Linked DNA regions of Homo sapiens. The protein of the gene in region 1 purifies or fractionates together with the protein of each later gene. This does not show direct contact. Each region holds a gene or a part of one and is shown in the gene's direction. Other genes may lie near its edges.

Region 1 (7,021 bases):
GTTTACCCTCTCCAGTTTCTTTCATCTTTTCTCTTTTAGTATTAACCCCTTTCCCCTCTTCTTGAACCCTTCCTGTGAGGTGAAGGACTGTGGCTTATTCATTTTTGAATCTCCAGTGTGCAGCACCCTGCATAGAACCTGGCAGGTACTCAATAATTATTTGGATTGAACTGAGATCTCCACGCTGACTCTTTCTCACTGAAGTTACTGTAATTTTTTCTTTGATTATCATATAGCTGATTTAATCAAATTATTATAAAATGTTTGCATTTTAATGAGCTGTCACTCCTGGGTGGATTTGAATTTTAGTTAGCAGACACCTGAAAAAGGCTTAAACCATAGAAGTGAATTACTAATGGTGAGATTTTAGGTATAAAAGAGAGGCGTGCCGCTCAGTCCTACTGAAGCAGCATTGCTCGTCTGGCGTAATACTTGAGTTTCATTGTCTCATACCAAGGAAATCAAGGACGAGGACACACAAGGAGTGAGGTTAGGAGTGGAGACTTAATAGGTGAAAGAAAGAGAAAAGCTCTCTCCTGCAAAAAGAGGGGTCCCAAACAGCTTTCTAGTCCATGGTGAAGTGCAGGAGGCTTTATGGATGAACTTGAGGAGGCAGTGTCTGATTTACATAGGGCATGAAAGATTGGTTGGACCAGATGTGCCATTTGCATAGCACACGAAAAACTGATTAGGCCTAGGTGTGCAATTTGCAGAGCATTCAAGAATCTGGCCACCCCCACCCTAATCTTTTATTATGCAGATGGGTTCTCTACCTGGCCAGCGCCATGTTGCCCATTTCTTTACACATGGTGACAAAGAAAAGGGAAGATGGAACATATTGAACATGCTTGGCCCCAGGTAGCCCTTTTCTTTTTCTTTTTTTTTTTTTTTGAGACAGTTTTGCTCTAGTCTCCCAGGCTAGAGTGCAATGGTGCAATTTCAGCTCACTGCAACCTCCACCTCCCAGGTTCAAGTGATTCCCCTGCCTCAGCCTCCCAAGTACCTGGGATTATAGGCGCCTGCCACCATGCCTACCTAATTTTTGTATTTTTAGTAGAGGCGGGGTTTTGCCATGTTGGTCAGGCTGGTCTCTAACTCCCGACCTTGGGTGATCTGTCCGCCTTGGCCTCCCAAAGTGCTGGGATTACAGGCGTGAGCCATTGTGCCCAGCCCAGGTAGTACTTTTCTATTGGCACAGCTGCTGGCATTCACCTGTGCAAGCTTCCAGCTTGCTTATTTATGTTTGCAGCTCAATTTTTCAGGTTGCTCTTTGTTAGAAAAGAAATGGTTTGGAGGCTGCTTTTTGTTAAAAGGGAAGCCTTGCCACGGACTCCTTTACCCTCACTATGTGCCTACATAATTTATTTCTAGCTCCTGTATCAATACCATATTAACTTTCTTAAGTGAAATTAAAACATTCTTATCTCCTCTCAACTTCAGTTCCAAAGCTGTTACAGCTACATAAAGAACTTCAAATTATCTTACTAACATTTAAAATATTTACTGTTGAATGGCATTGCTGTTGCCTGAGCAAGTTCACACTCAAGTTACACTTAGTGAGAGCTCTTTTCTGCCCGGCATGTGTGAGTTCAGCGTGGGCAAGAGACTTTTATGTGCATTCAGTCCTTTCAGAAATGAGACGATGCCAACCACAGACGCAGCATGTCCTGGATGACTGATCTGTAAAATATAATAAAAGCTTATTGTTTGAGTAGAAAATAAAATAAAATAATTTACTGTTGTAGCTGGGGATATTTTGAAAAGAATAAAATCAAAATGCCACTTATCAAGAAATGGCAAGAACAAGATTCCCTTGCCCTTAAGAAATTGTCAGCTATTTTTATTGCTTTTTTGTTAATGCATTTTCAACCTGTCCTTAGTTATCAGTAGCAAATTTCATCACCATCTTTTAATTTTTTTATTCAATTTATACCAGTAATGTCTACTTTTACAATTAATAAAAGCAGCCAGTAAATCCGGATGATATCCCACCAGTCCGTTGTTTATAAAGAGATAGCCACTTAGAACAAACTAGATGGTAGAAAATTAGGTTATAATTCTATATTTCCTATAAGCTCTTCAGAGTGTTTCCAGATTGCTTAAACTTTGAAAGCAACAAAGCTCCGAAAGGGACAAATGGAACAAAAAGAGAAGACTTGCTCAGACATTCAGAGTGGGGGACATTGATGGCATTATGAGTCTCACCAGAAACTTTTATGTTCTTCATATCCTGTGACCTCTTTATGGAAGAATTAAACTACAAAAGAACCAGGGCTGTAAACACAGCATTTTTGAATCCCCTATGCCGGGACAGCCAAAAGAAAAAAAAAGAGAGCATTGATGAGATGTTCTTACCGTGCTGCTACTGCTTCAGCTCATTACTTTGATTTTGGTGTTCATGAGTCATGAGTCTAGAACACCCATTTTTAATAAATATTGAAACTGTATTGGTTTATACATAGTATTATTTACACAATTGAGTAATTACTAGGGGTCATTATACTTTGAAAAGTATAGCTTTTGCTCTTTATGTTGGCATTCACAATCTTGATCATTTTTCTTTTGATGTGTCGGCCTGCAACACTGGGGGAAAGAGAGAGCTGCAGAAATACCCATTTTGTGAATTATACAAAATTATAAACATGCGTCTCGCTAGCCTTTATTTAAGCAATGAATTTAAATTAATCATTCTACTCAAAAATGCCTTATAGGTACTAAGTCTCTGCATTAAGCACCATTAACAAATGCATTACTCTATGTATCTTGTATAGCGGGTGCTTTGATTCCTTCTTGATATATATTTAAGTCCCAGTAATTTGGTGGTATACTGTAGTTTACATCCTGCTTGTCAGATACAAATTCTTCCATGCTGTAACTGTAGATTTACCTTTCTATTCTTGAGACAATTCTGATATTGCTACCAAACAAATTTACAGTGCATTTTTTGTAACTCAGTAAAGGTAGTGATTTACTGTGTTTAAGACCAATTATTTCAGTGAATGTGTATATGCGTGAGTGTTTTTGTGAGTGTGTTAAATGTAGGTCTGTGTCACCATTTATGTGTCTTGGTACAGATACTTTTTTATATAGTTTTTTCAACCTTAGAAACCACAAAATTAAGAAAGAAGTGTTACCCTGTGATGAAAAAATAGGCTCAACTACAAAATACCATCAACTGGAACAAACTGAGTTTTGGAATAATTGATTTGGCATCTCCTGGAATATTATATAATTTGCTAGTTAAATTTTCACCAAAATAAAAAACCCTTCCCTTATTTTGCAGCTCTTTCTCTGCTCTCCCCTGTGTTGCAGGTTTGTAATGTTTGAGCACAATTCCTGGGTGAAATTCGTATTTGCCTCTGTGCGTGTTATTTGTGGCAGAGAACTGTGCCTGGTCAGCAGCTCTAGACCTGGAGCCCGTGGACACTATATGCGGGGCTTCAGTGGAAAGAGAGATCTGCTTAATTTTGTCCCAGGTGAAGGAGTCCAGCGGTTCCTATCCTGGACTACGGGAAGGTTCCCACATCTCTTTGTCCCATTAGTTGAGATGACTTGCAGTAGAAATTGTCCAGTGAGTGTTAAGAACTTATTGAAAGATGTCTTAGTTTTCTAGTTTTGTTGTTAGGCAAAAAGTGAGAATTTTTACTTCCATGTTAAATGTTAAATGAAAATGAATGCTGATTTAATATTTACATTCTTAAATGCTTAGCAAATCAGAATTGACAGTTAGTTTTGAAGCCTTTCCTATAAATCCTGGGATTTTGGAACTGTGAAGTTGGGTTGGTAAAAACTCAAAGTCTTAAAATTCCTAGGTGACAGAGCCATAAATTACAAGCCTAAATAACTAAACTTCTACTTATGAAATTTTAACTCTTTTACTGTGGCCAATAATAAACCATTTTTAAGAAAACTATTGTAGATGGTTTAAACAAATGGAAGGAATATTAAATTCCCGGGACAGGTAGCATCTGAATAAATGCCGTGTTCCCTTATCTGGCTCTTTAAATCGTTTGAAATATCATAGTTAGTCAAACTGTAAAGATTCCACTGTTTCATAGTCGTTTGGGTAATTTAAAGTTACGAGTTAACATTTGTAATATAAATATCACTGATACTTATGCTAAAACATTTATGTTATATGGTGGACAAATGTATCTTTCAACATTGCAGAAATATTACATTGGCACGACAGTTCCAAAATCAAGAGAAAAATGGAAAGATAGTGCAACTATAAATGTTATTTCTCAAGAAAGTTCAGCATGACTATAAAAGATTAAGTAGAGTTTGTTCATGCTTTTCCATCTTACTTTTCTGATTAAAGCAGGCATTTTAATATACTGATTGGAAAAATCTATTTATGTATATATCTCCTTCCAATGCATTACTGATGAAGTTTTCAAAATTATCTTTTTGGGGAGAAAAAAAAAGCTTGGAAAGATTGAGTCTTAATCAGTCAAATTAGTAGCACTTCGTTTTTCCTAAATGTACCTTTAAAATCGAAGTCATCTTTGGAATGTTTTAAAGAGTTAACAGTGTTACTAAAGACAATACCTGCTTTAAATAAGTTATCTTTTCCGATTTCTTCCACTTTGTTTTATTTTTTAGCCCATAATTTCACAATATTCTCACTTTTGACAAGGCTCAATGCAAATTAACAATTTTTAACAAGTGGTAAAGAACTTAGGGCAGACACTGTTAGAGGAAATCAAAGGAAGATGCAGAAATGCAGTCTGAGTTGGATGGAGGAAACGGTGACCTCAAGCCCAGTAACAATGAATTTTATTTGTTATTAGAGAAAATTCATATTTGTGGGATGCTCTGGGCCCAAACAGGACCCCAGGAGTTGCAGCTGGCAGTACTGCCCTGCGTTTGAAGACTACCTCTTTGTATTACAACCTTCTGGAGTTAGGAGTGTTAACTACACCAAGTTTATGAGAAGCTAGAATGAACTTCATTCTCCACCTCCCCTCCCCCAGATTTTCTGCTCCTGTAATGATGGTTGTAACTTTGTTTCACGTCTAGGGAGGACAAAGATAAACAGAAAAGAATGTGAGCCTGTAACCATTTTAGGATTTTTTTGGTGAACATTTATAAAATTAAAACAGTTTTAGAAGCATACAGGGGTAGAATATGCAAATGGTATACCCTTGGCATGTCTCACTTAGCCTACTAACTGATAATATGTTCACAGCATAGGAGTGAAAAATGGAAGAGAAAACCTTCTAAATCCATAGACTATAGAAAAGTCAGCTTGCCTCCATGGGCTCAAGTAGACCTAAGTCATCCCACCATCATAGCCAACCTAATTAAATTTTAATACTTTCAGTCTGGACACCAGATATCCATGAAGGTGTTGTTATAAGTTCAAGTCAGCTCTACTTGATATGAATAGAGGCCATTTGTAGATAGTGATGCAGTGTTTGCCAAATAAGGTTAGCAACCTTTCCGTTTGCATGGAGACTTGTTACTGAATTAAATACTTGTTTCTCTGCATGCTGTTACTTACATAGTTCATTTGCATTTTATTTGCTTAGCTCTAGTTAAATTAGAATGATATATTCCAGCATTAGTTTATCATGCTTGTGTTTTATTTTGTAATAAAAATTCCATATCCAATCATTTGACTGTCACTAACTTGTACTCTTTTTTTCATAATACTTGTAGCAACTCTTCTGACCTCTGGGACTACTGCAACAGTAGCCCTATTGCGAGATGGTATTGAACTGGTTGTAGCCAGTGTTGGGGACAGCCGGGCTATTTTGTGTAGAAAAGGAAAACCCATGAAGCTGACCATTGACCATACTCCAGAAAGAAAAGATGAAAAAGAAAGGTACTACCACCACTGATCCATCATATCATTCTATGTGGATGATGTTTTTAGTTCATAATAGTTTTTAAACTGATGTCATGGTTAAGTTTAACAGTGACTTGGTTTTCTTTTTGTTTTTTTGAGACAGAGTCTCACTCTGTCGCCCAGGCTGGAGTGCAGTGGCGCAATCTTGGCTCACTGCAAGCTCCACCTCCCGGGTTCACACCATTCTCCTGCTTCAGCCTCCTGAGTAGCTGGGACTACAGGCGCCTGCCAACACGCTCGGCTAATTTTTTGTTTTTTAGTAGAGACGGGGTTTCACCGTGTTAGCCAGGATGGTCTCGATCTCCTGACCTCGTGATCTGCCCTCCTTGGCCTCCCAAAGGGTTTTCTACATATCACACCATTGTCATTTAACTTTTAACAGGATCAAGAAATGTGGTGGTTTTGTAGCTTGGAATAGTTTGGGGCAGCCTCACGTAAATGGCAGGCTTGCAATGACAAGAAGTATTGGAGATTTGGACCTTAAGACCAGTGGTGTCATAGCAGAACCTGAAACTAAGAGGATTAAGGTAAGAAAGGACCTGCAAACACTTGATAAACCTGCGGAGAGTGAATGTAGGATTGTCTCTGCTGCACCTTTCTTGGAAGCCTTAACTGAAGCCAAAATGATTTTTAAAAGGGAGTAATTTATGGAAGGATAAAAAAACTTTTCAGGTAAAATAAGATGCTACTATTCTGGCCTAATTTATTGTAGAGGACAAAACAATTCTCTTTTTCCCCCTTTTTAGGTTCTTAGTTGAGACACTTTCTTGAAAATAAAAGTCAGATTAACTACAACAACAACAAACAAACAAGCAGACATTTGCACGTGCTGAACCCATTGTACGGGAAAGGCCTCAGTTAAAAGTATTTCTCTTCCAAGGCAGTGGCTTAGGGGCTTTGCTTAAATTGTATTTAAATAGCCATAGATCCTGCATAGTGACAAGATAAAGAAGAGAACAGTTTCAGTCTTTTAAAAGTCAGGAAAATGTGGAGAGATAGTAAAACCTGTTCCCAGATTTCTCTGGTGCCTGCTGGTTCCTTCTCTGGGCCAATAAACAAGTGCTGTCTCCAGTAAAGAAGGACTGATGTCCTGCCACCAGGCAAGTAGAGGCTGAGGAAGTGTACCCCTGCCTTTTCAGTGACTTGACTTTAGCAATCCTCAATATT
Region 2 (7,842 bases), on another chromosome or scaffold:
TGAGGAACTTCTATTTTCACAAAAATAAAGTATATCCATACAACGAAGTATTGTTCAGCCATGAAACTGTACCAATTTACAAATATTGCCACCAACAGTTTACAAGGGTTTCATTTTCCCTATACCCTTGCCAACATTTGTTATTTGTCTTCTTGATAAGTCATCCAATATATTAATACTACATTTATATAGACTCTTTCATCATATAAAGTAGTATCAAGATACTAGAATTCCTTTGATCTTCAAAATATCCCTGAAGGTATATTGAAGATGGTAGGGAAGGTATTATCAATGTCAATCTCATCTTGTACACAAGAAAATTGAAACTTGCCCATGATAGGCAAAAAAGAGGCAGATCTATATATAATTCAAACTCTTAATGAATCACTACAAACTATCCATATTAAACAAAATATATATCTGTATTATATACAATACATACAACTCTATATTAACATAGTTGACTAAGCATATATTGGAACAGTTTCTAAATAAGTAATGATATTTAAATACTTAGGCTATTAAAAGTCCTCAAAATTCATAAATAGTTAAACTACAGTAGCTCTGGCAAGCATGTGTTGGTATATTTTGGGGTAATGGTCAATGCAGGGGCTGACTCTAGGCTACATTTATCTCCTGACCACTTAGAATTCAGAGCAGAATTCAGAAGGTCATCCTCAGATTTTTCTACACCAGTCAGGCACACCAAGGAGCCAAACAAGTAATTTAAGACCTTCATTAATTAGCATCTTGCATTTTGGTAAACGTCACTCTTTCTGAGAATTCCATTGAATAGAGCAGAGTGTCAATTTAACGAAGCCACAGTCATGTTCTATTTTTTTTTTCTTTTAGGCAGGGTCTTGCCCTGTTGTCTAGGCTGGAGTGCAGTGATGCAATCACAACTTACTGCAGCCTCGAGCTCCAGAGCTCAAGTGATCCTCTCGCCTCAGTCTGTAGGACTACAGGCACACGCCACTACCCCCAGCTAATTTTTTGTAGAGATGGGGTTTTGCCATGTTGCCCAAGCTGGTCACAAACTCCTGAGCTCACGCGATCCTCCCGCCTTGGCCTTCCAAAGTGCTGGGATTACAGAGCCGCCGTACCTGTCCCACAGTCATTTTCTTAAGGATAAATTGTTTCATCTTACTTTGTCCCACATTTATAGAAAGTAACATAGACAACCATCTTAGAAATATCAACAATTGAGCAAGCACTCTAAGAATGGCTAATAAACATGTAGAAACATGCTCAACTTTATTAATAATCAGGGAAATTCAAATTAAGATTATAACATCATTTTATAATTACTAAATTGGGGGAAAATTTTAAATCTGACAATATCAAATGAGAAACAATAAACATACAGCAGCTAGGCATGTAGTTTGTACAATCACATTGGAAAACAATCTCGTATTATCTAGAGTAAACTTGAAGATAAACATAACCCCTGTTTCAACAATTCAACTTTTAGGTATTTATCCTAAGCCTACTAATCAAAGTGTAGTTGGCTAACCAATAGCATTTGTATCACCTGGAGCTTGTTAGAAATGCAGAATGGCAGGTTTACCCACATTTACTGAATTAGAATCTGCTTGTTAACAAGATCCCCGGTTGCTATGAATGCTCATTAATGTCTGAGAAGCGCTGTGCTAAAGAAACCCTAGAACATGCACCAGGAGAAATGATCAAGAATGTTCATAACAGCACTGACGGTAATAGCAAATAACTAGAAATAGCACAAATATCCACTCAGTAGAGAATGGATAAATAAATCATGTCAGAAAAACTAGTTGCAGAAAGATACATACAGTTTAATACCATTTTTATGAGACTCAAAAACAAGCAAAAGTAAATAATATGTTACTAGGCATCCATCCATATATGTATATGTGGTCAATTCTAAAATAAACAAAGGAATGAAAAACACAATTCAAGATAACGCTTATGAAGGGGAGAGGTAAAGGAAGGAGCAGACAGTGATCTTCACTAACGGGAAAGATTCTATTTCTTTTTTTTTTAGTTTAAAATGTATTTTATTTTTAGACAACCTACATAATGTGTTTTTCCATAGGTTCTATTTCTTAAAGTTGAGTGATAGGTTCAAGGGTTTTTGTTATATTATCATGTGACATATGTATTTGTTTTGTATTGTTTTGAGATGGAATCTTGCTCTATTGCCCAGGCTGGAGTGCAATGGCACAATCTTGGCTCACCACAACCTTCGCCTCCCAGATTTAAGCAATTCTCCTGCCTCAGCCTCCCGAGTATCTGGGACTACAGGCGCATGCCACCATGCCTGGCTAATTTTTGTATTTTTAGTAGAGATGGGGTTTCACTATGTTGGCCAGGCTGGTCTCGAACTGCTGACCTCGTGATCTACCCGCCTTCGCCTCCCAATGTGCTGGGATTACAGGCATGAGCCACCACGTCCAGACTTATGTATTTGTTTTTATTCATATGTTCATTATTGTCTCATATAACACAGTTTTAACAGCTTTATTATGGTGTACTTTACATACCATAAAATTCACCTGTCTTAAGTGTATAATTCAAAGATTTTTAGTAAATGTACAGAATTATGCAATCATTGCCACAAAGTGGCAACAGAAAATTTTCATCACCACAAAAAAAATCTCTCTTGCCTCTGCAATCACTGCCCCTTCCACCTCTAGCCCCAGGCGAATTTGTTTTCTAATGCTAACCTTATTAATTAATAATACTAATATAATCTTATTATATAACTAATATAACTAAAACTAATCTGTTTTTCATCTCTATAAATCAACATTTTCTGGACATTTAATTTAAATGGAATAATGTAATATGTGATCTTTTGTGCTTGTATTCTTTTACTTAGCATAATATTTTTTTGACATTCATCCATGTCATAGCAATTATCGCTAATTCAGTCATTTTTAAGGATGAATAATATTTCAGAATATGGATGTACCACATTTTGTTTATTCACCTGTTAATGGACATCTGGGCTGTTTCTAGATTTTGGCTGTTATGCTGTTATGATTATTCCTATTCAAGTCTTTGTGTGAACACTGTTGTCATTTCTCTTATGTAGCTATCCAGGAGTGGAATTGGTGGGTCATAACTGGCCATTTTTAAATCTAAAAAAAGAGAAGAAATGGGGTCTTTGTTTCTTTCAAACTCGAATAAAAGAATTAACTAGGGAATAGATGGTGTATTTCTTTCCAGATGCTGGAATGAAAGATAAGGACACATATTATACTGAATATAGAAGCAAGAATCCATTGACATAAGAAGACGGTAAAGGAAAATAAACTAGTTATCTTCTGAGGAGCAGGTACAGTTAAAAACGAAATTAGGACAAAGAAAGTTGTATAGCAGCAGCTTGGAAGGGAGATGATTCACTTCAAAGGTACAACTGCCACTGCTTTTTATACAAACACATGCTTGTGGGATTATCAAATATATTAATAATGTCTATAAACATTTTTAAGGAAATGTAAAAACTTGAAATTCTTTTGACTACTCTAGATTTTCTGAGAAAGATAGCTATTTAGGCCGGACCCAGTGGCTCATGCCTGTAATCCTAGGACTTTGGGAGGCTGAAATGGGAAGATCGCAGTTTGAGACCAGGACTTTGAGACCAGCCTGGGCAACATAGAGAGATCCCATCTTGAACTTCTGAGCTCAAGCCATTTGCCTGCCTCAGCCTCCCAAAGTGCTGGAATTATGGGCAGGAGCCACCACGCCTGGCCCAAGAGACCCTATCTCTACCAAACAAACAAACAAACAAAAAAGATAATAAGATTTATTGTTTGCATTGATTTTTTGTGTGTAGATGTGTAATACATAAAATGGCAAATGAGGGGGAAAAGTGTTTGGGTCATATTAAACAATGAAGTTGTGAAATACCTGAGATTTTGTTTCATAACCACTAATCTTCAATGTTGAGCATTTAAAATGTATTTGTTCCAGTTTTTTTTCTCTGTAATTCCTTAGACATCTGTGCAGATTTTCATTCCCACGTAAGAAGCAATAACAGACTAATGTCATCCTGGACATTTCCAGGAATTGGTTTCCTAGTTGCTCTGAGGAAGATTGCCTTTTAAAAGAAAGCTCTGATCTGTTCTTTACCAGTTCCACTTGACCTGAATTTGACATTTCTTTAAGAGACAACTAAATCAAGATCATGTGTCTGTGACATGTATTGCATATGCTAGTTAGCTGCATCTGATAGCAGTCTGTAAAAAGAAAGATGATAACATGTTTATTTTAGACATTAGGTAATGTTCATCTTTCATGAAAAAAATTGATTAGCCAATTTTGGTAATCAAAAACATAAATGGGAGTAAAAAAGGCAGTCATTGGGAAGTACTGCTGTATGGACTTGTGAAACAACTAGTTGTCCAGAGCCTTGCTACAACGTATAGAAATATTCTATTTTCTGTATTTGGGGCGGCTACACTACAAGATGAAGACGGGGAAATGTTTTCCAACTCATCGCTCAGGTCCTACTGCAACATAACTTTCTTGAGGTAAGTACCTTTCTTTGTGTTTCCTTAACACTCTCTATTTTCCCCATCACATACACTAAAAAGATTATCTTTGGTGCATCTGTATTTACACAGCAGTGTTAAATTTGGGCTGCCCTCTGCCCCGCCTCCGTCCCCCAGGCTCTTTTCACTCCCCGCTGGGTCCCAGATCCTAGGGTTTAGCTCAGGCTCCGCCCTACTCCTTGGTTGGCTGTTGGGTGGGAGGCTCGTTTCTTCCCTCCCTATTGGTCGCCCAGGGGGAGGCGCGTTTCCCATCTCCTGATAGGCCGCGCCGAGGAGAGTCTCTCCAGTTTGCGGCACTGTTGTCATTTCCGGGGTAAGATGGCTGCAGTCCGTATGCTGAGAACCTGGAGCAGGAATGCGGGGAAGCTGGTAAGCACGTTTGGGCAGATCTGAGGCCGGGAAGGAGTGATTTGTCCGGAGTCATCCAGGAGTGGTGTTTTACTTTCTCCTCCGGTGCCAGGCGTCCAGGGCACGCGTGATGGAGAGGTGAAGGGATGCATGCAAAATAAAGGGCAGAGAACGGAGCGAGTCGACCAGTCTGGAGTGGAAACCCACTCCCTCCCCTTACCTGGAAGCGCTTCTGCAGCGACTCAGCCGTCCTGCTCCATCTGTACCCCGAGGCCCAGCTAGCGTTTTATTGAGCGCCTTCCAGGTGCCCAGGCATTGTGATAGGCGCTGTGGATCCAGAGATATATTCGTTTAGCATTTATTGCGTACCCACAGTATGCCAAACACTGGTAACACGACCCCTACCCTCAAGGAATCTACAGTGTGTAGAGGAAGAGGCCGTTCAAGTTATAGAATATCAGCAGGGGTCCCTGCTTCCGAAGAACTGAGCAGCTCGGCGTCACTCTTTTGCCTTGTACTTCTATGTCCGCACCACATATCATTCCTACCCTTTTGTCACCAAGGCTGTGACCCATCACCATCTCCCCTGCACTTCCTTCTCTTTCTCCCAGTCTTAGCACCAAGCACTGACACATACCGGTAATGATACTTGTTACCCCTATTTGCTTAGTGTTTCTTCTTCCTGCCTCTTCTCCCTTTCCCTAGATGCTCCTGCCTTGGTGACCCCGATCTTACAAAAACTTTCAAGAGCCTGCTATGTACCAGTGCTGTGTTAGGCACTGGAGATACAAATATGAAATAGACATCATATCTTCCTTCTCAAGAGATTACAACCTTGTGGTGGAGGACAAAGGAGAGGGAGACAGATAGAAATTACAACCCAGCATGAGAGGTACTGTGATGGGACAAGTGCCTAGAACTACAGGAACACACAGGAGTGGACACCTATGGTGGACTTGGGGGTCAGAGGAGTTCCCAGAGGATACTGTATGACTTGAGATGTAAGAAGGATAAGTAAGAGATAACCAGGAGAAGAGAGCTCTTCTCAGCAACACTTAACACATATTGGTCTCTCTTCTTTCTAGAGCTTTCCATTCTTGTTTTCTGTGACACCAGTTTCCCAATATTATTCTTTCTTCATCTTTGGCCACTTCATCCCAATATCCTGTTTCCCTTCCCGCCTTTTAAATATTGCTTTTTCTAAAGGGCTCTGACTTTGGCCCTCTGCACTTTTCCCACTTTCTGGGTTATCCCATCCACTCTTTGGCTTTAGTTACCATCTATGCTGATGAGTCCTAAAGTTCCCCAGTCTTCCAACCAGGTCTACTCCAAACCCATATATCCTACTGTCCTGGAAATCTCCAGTTTCATATGTACGTGATGTTTTCCAGCTGCAATTAAAAACCCAACCAATAAATAGGAAATTAAGTATCCATGCATACAGAGCATCCCCAATTAGATGTCAGCTCACATTAAGTGGCTTATGATTATCAATGTCGTCATTTCCCTAGTAGTTCATTTGTCCTTTTCCTACTGTATACAAGAGGGCTGCTACGACTTCTTCTTTTATGTTGAAGGCAGGAAGGTGGAAGAGGAGGAGGTTCCAGTCTCACTGGCCAGAACTGTGTTACATGGCCCCGGCTAGCACAAGGGAGCTTAGAAAAACTTGTCTTTTTTTTTTTTTTTTTTGAAATGGAGTCTCTCTCTGTCACCCAGGCTGGAGTACAGTGGTGCGATCTTGGCTCACTGCAACCCCTGCCTCCCAGTTTCAAGCGATTCTTTTGCCTCAGCCTCCCAAATATCTGGGACTACAGGCACACGCCACCATGCCCAGCTAATTTTTGTATTTTTAGTAGAGACGAGGTTTCACCATGATGGCCAGGCTGGTCTCAAACTCCTGACCTCAAGTGATCCGCCTGCCTTGGCCTCCCAAAGTGCTGGGATTACAGGATGAGCCACCATGCCCAGCAGAAAAGCTTGTCTTTAGTCTTCTCACAGTGTCTGCCGTAAAGCTTCAAAGCAGGTCAGACTCTCCAGCCTCTAGAACTGAACCCTCAAACCAGTTTCTCTTAATTTTTTTTTTTTTTTTTTTTGAGAAGAGTCTTGATCTGTTGCCCAGGCTGGAGTGCAGTGGTGCAATCTCGGCTTACTGCAACCTCCACCTCCTGGGTTCAAGTGATTTTCCTGCCTCAGCCTCCCAAGTAGCTGGCACTACAGGCGCGAACCACCATGCCTGGCTAATTTTTGTATTTTTAGTAGAGACGGGGTTTTGCCATGTTGGCCAGGCTGGTCTTGAATTCCTGACCTCAGGTGATCCTCCTGCCTTGGCCTCCCAAAGTGCTGGGATTACAGGCGTAAGCCACTGCCCCTGGCCCAGTTTCTCTTGATTTGAGCCTGTAATTCTCTCTGAAGAAATCTAGTCATGATTTTTCCACCCTGCCCTCAACTGGAGGTGTCTTGGCCCTTCTTAACTGGATTATATGCCTCCAGTGGTCTTGTAGTTTTTCCAACCCATTCTCCATAGTGTAGCCAGAGTGATCTTATAAAGTAAGAGACATTTGATAATATCATTTTCTTGTTTAAAACTGCCTTCAGCAAAATGTCCAAAATTCAAATGACTATGAGGCAATTTATGATCTGGACCTTTCCAGTCTCTTAGATCTCATTCCTTACCAAAACCTACCCATCCCAACCCCAACTCTGACACTTCCCCACCCTTATTCCACACTAAACTACACTAGAAGTCTGTTGAACAACTTGAGTTATTTGCACACACACTGTGCTTTCTGTCTCAACTCCAGACCTTTGCACATGTATTTCCTCTGCTTTAAAGACTCTTGCCTTACTCCACTGTGGCCTTATCTGCAACATACCTCATCCCCGGGGTTACACCTACTCATCCGTCAGGTCTTACTTCAACATAACTTTCTCCAGCTAGGTTCCCTTAACACACTCTATT

The links. The genes of interacting proteins can lie anywhere in the genome.
Region 2: the proteins of PPM1K (region 1) and DBT purify together in Homo sapiens (affinity purification with mass spectrometry; 6 studies listed by BioGRID and IntAct, with this or other methods). This does not show direct contact.

Annotation. Positions count from the first base shown.
Region 1 is NC_000004.12:88,267,550-88,274,570, reverse strand, and holds part of PPM1K (protein phosphatase Mn(2+)-dependent 1K), read left to right. Parts: intron 1-116; coding exon of another isoform or gene 117-145; intron 146-3,283; coding exon of another isoform or gene 3,284-3,476; intron 3,477-5,664; coding exon 5,665-5,830; intron 5,831-6,236; coding exon 6,237-6,381; intron 6,382-7,021. UniProt on the Homo sapiens protein: Serine/threonine-protein phosphatase component of macronutrients metabolism.
Region 2 is NC_000001.11:100,246,832-100,254,673, reverse strand, and holds the start of DBT (lipoamide acyltransferase component of branched-chain alpha-keto acid dehydrogenase complex, mitochondrial isoform 1 precursor), read left to right. Parts: upstream 1-4,839; 5' UTR 4,840-4,853; coding exon 4,854-4,904; intron 4,905-5,588; exon of another isoform or gene 5,589-5,775; intron 5,776-7,842. UniProt on the Homo sapiens protein: The branched-chain alpha-keto dehydrogenase complex catalyzes the overall conversion of alpha-keto acids to acyl-CoA and CO(2).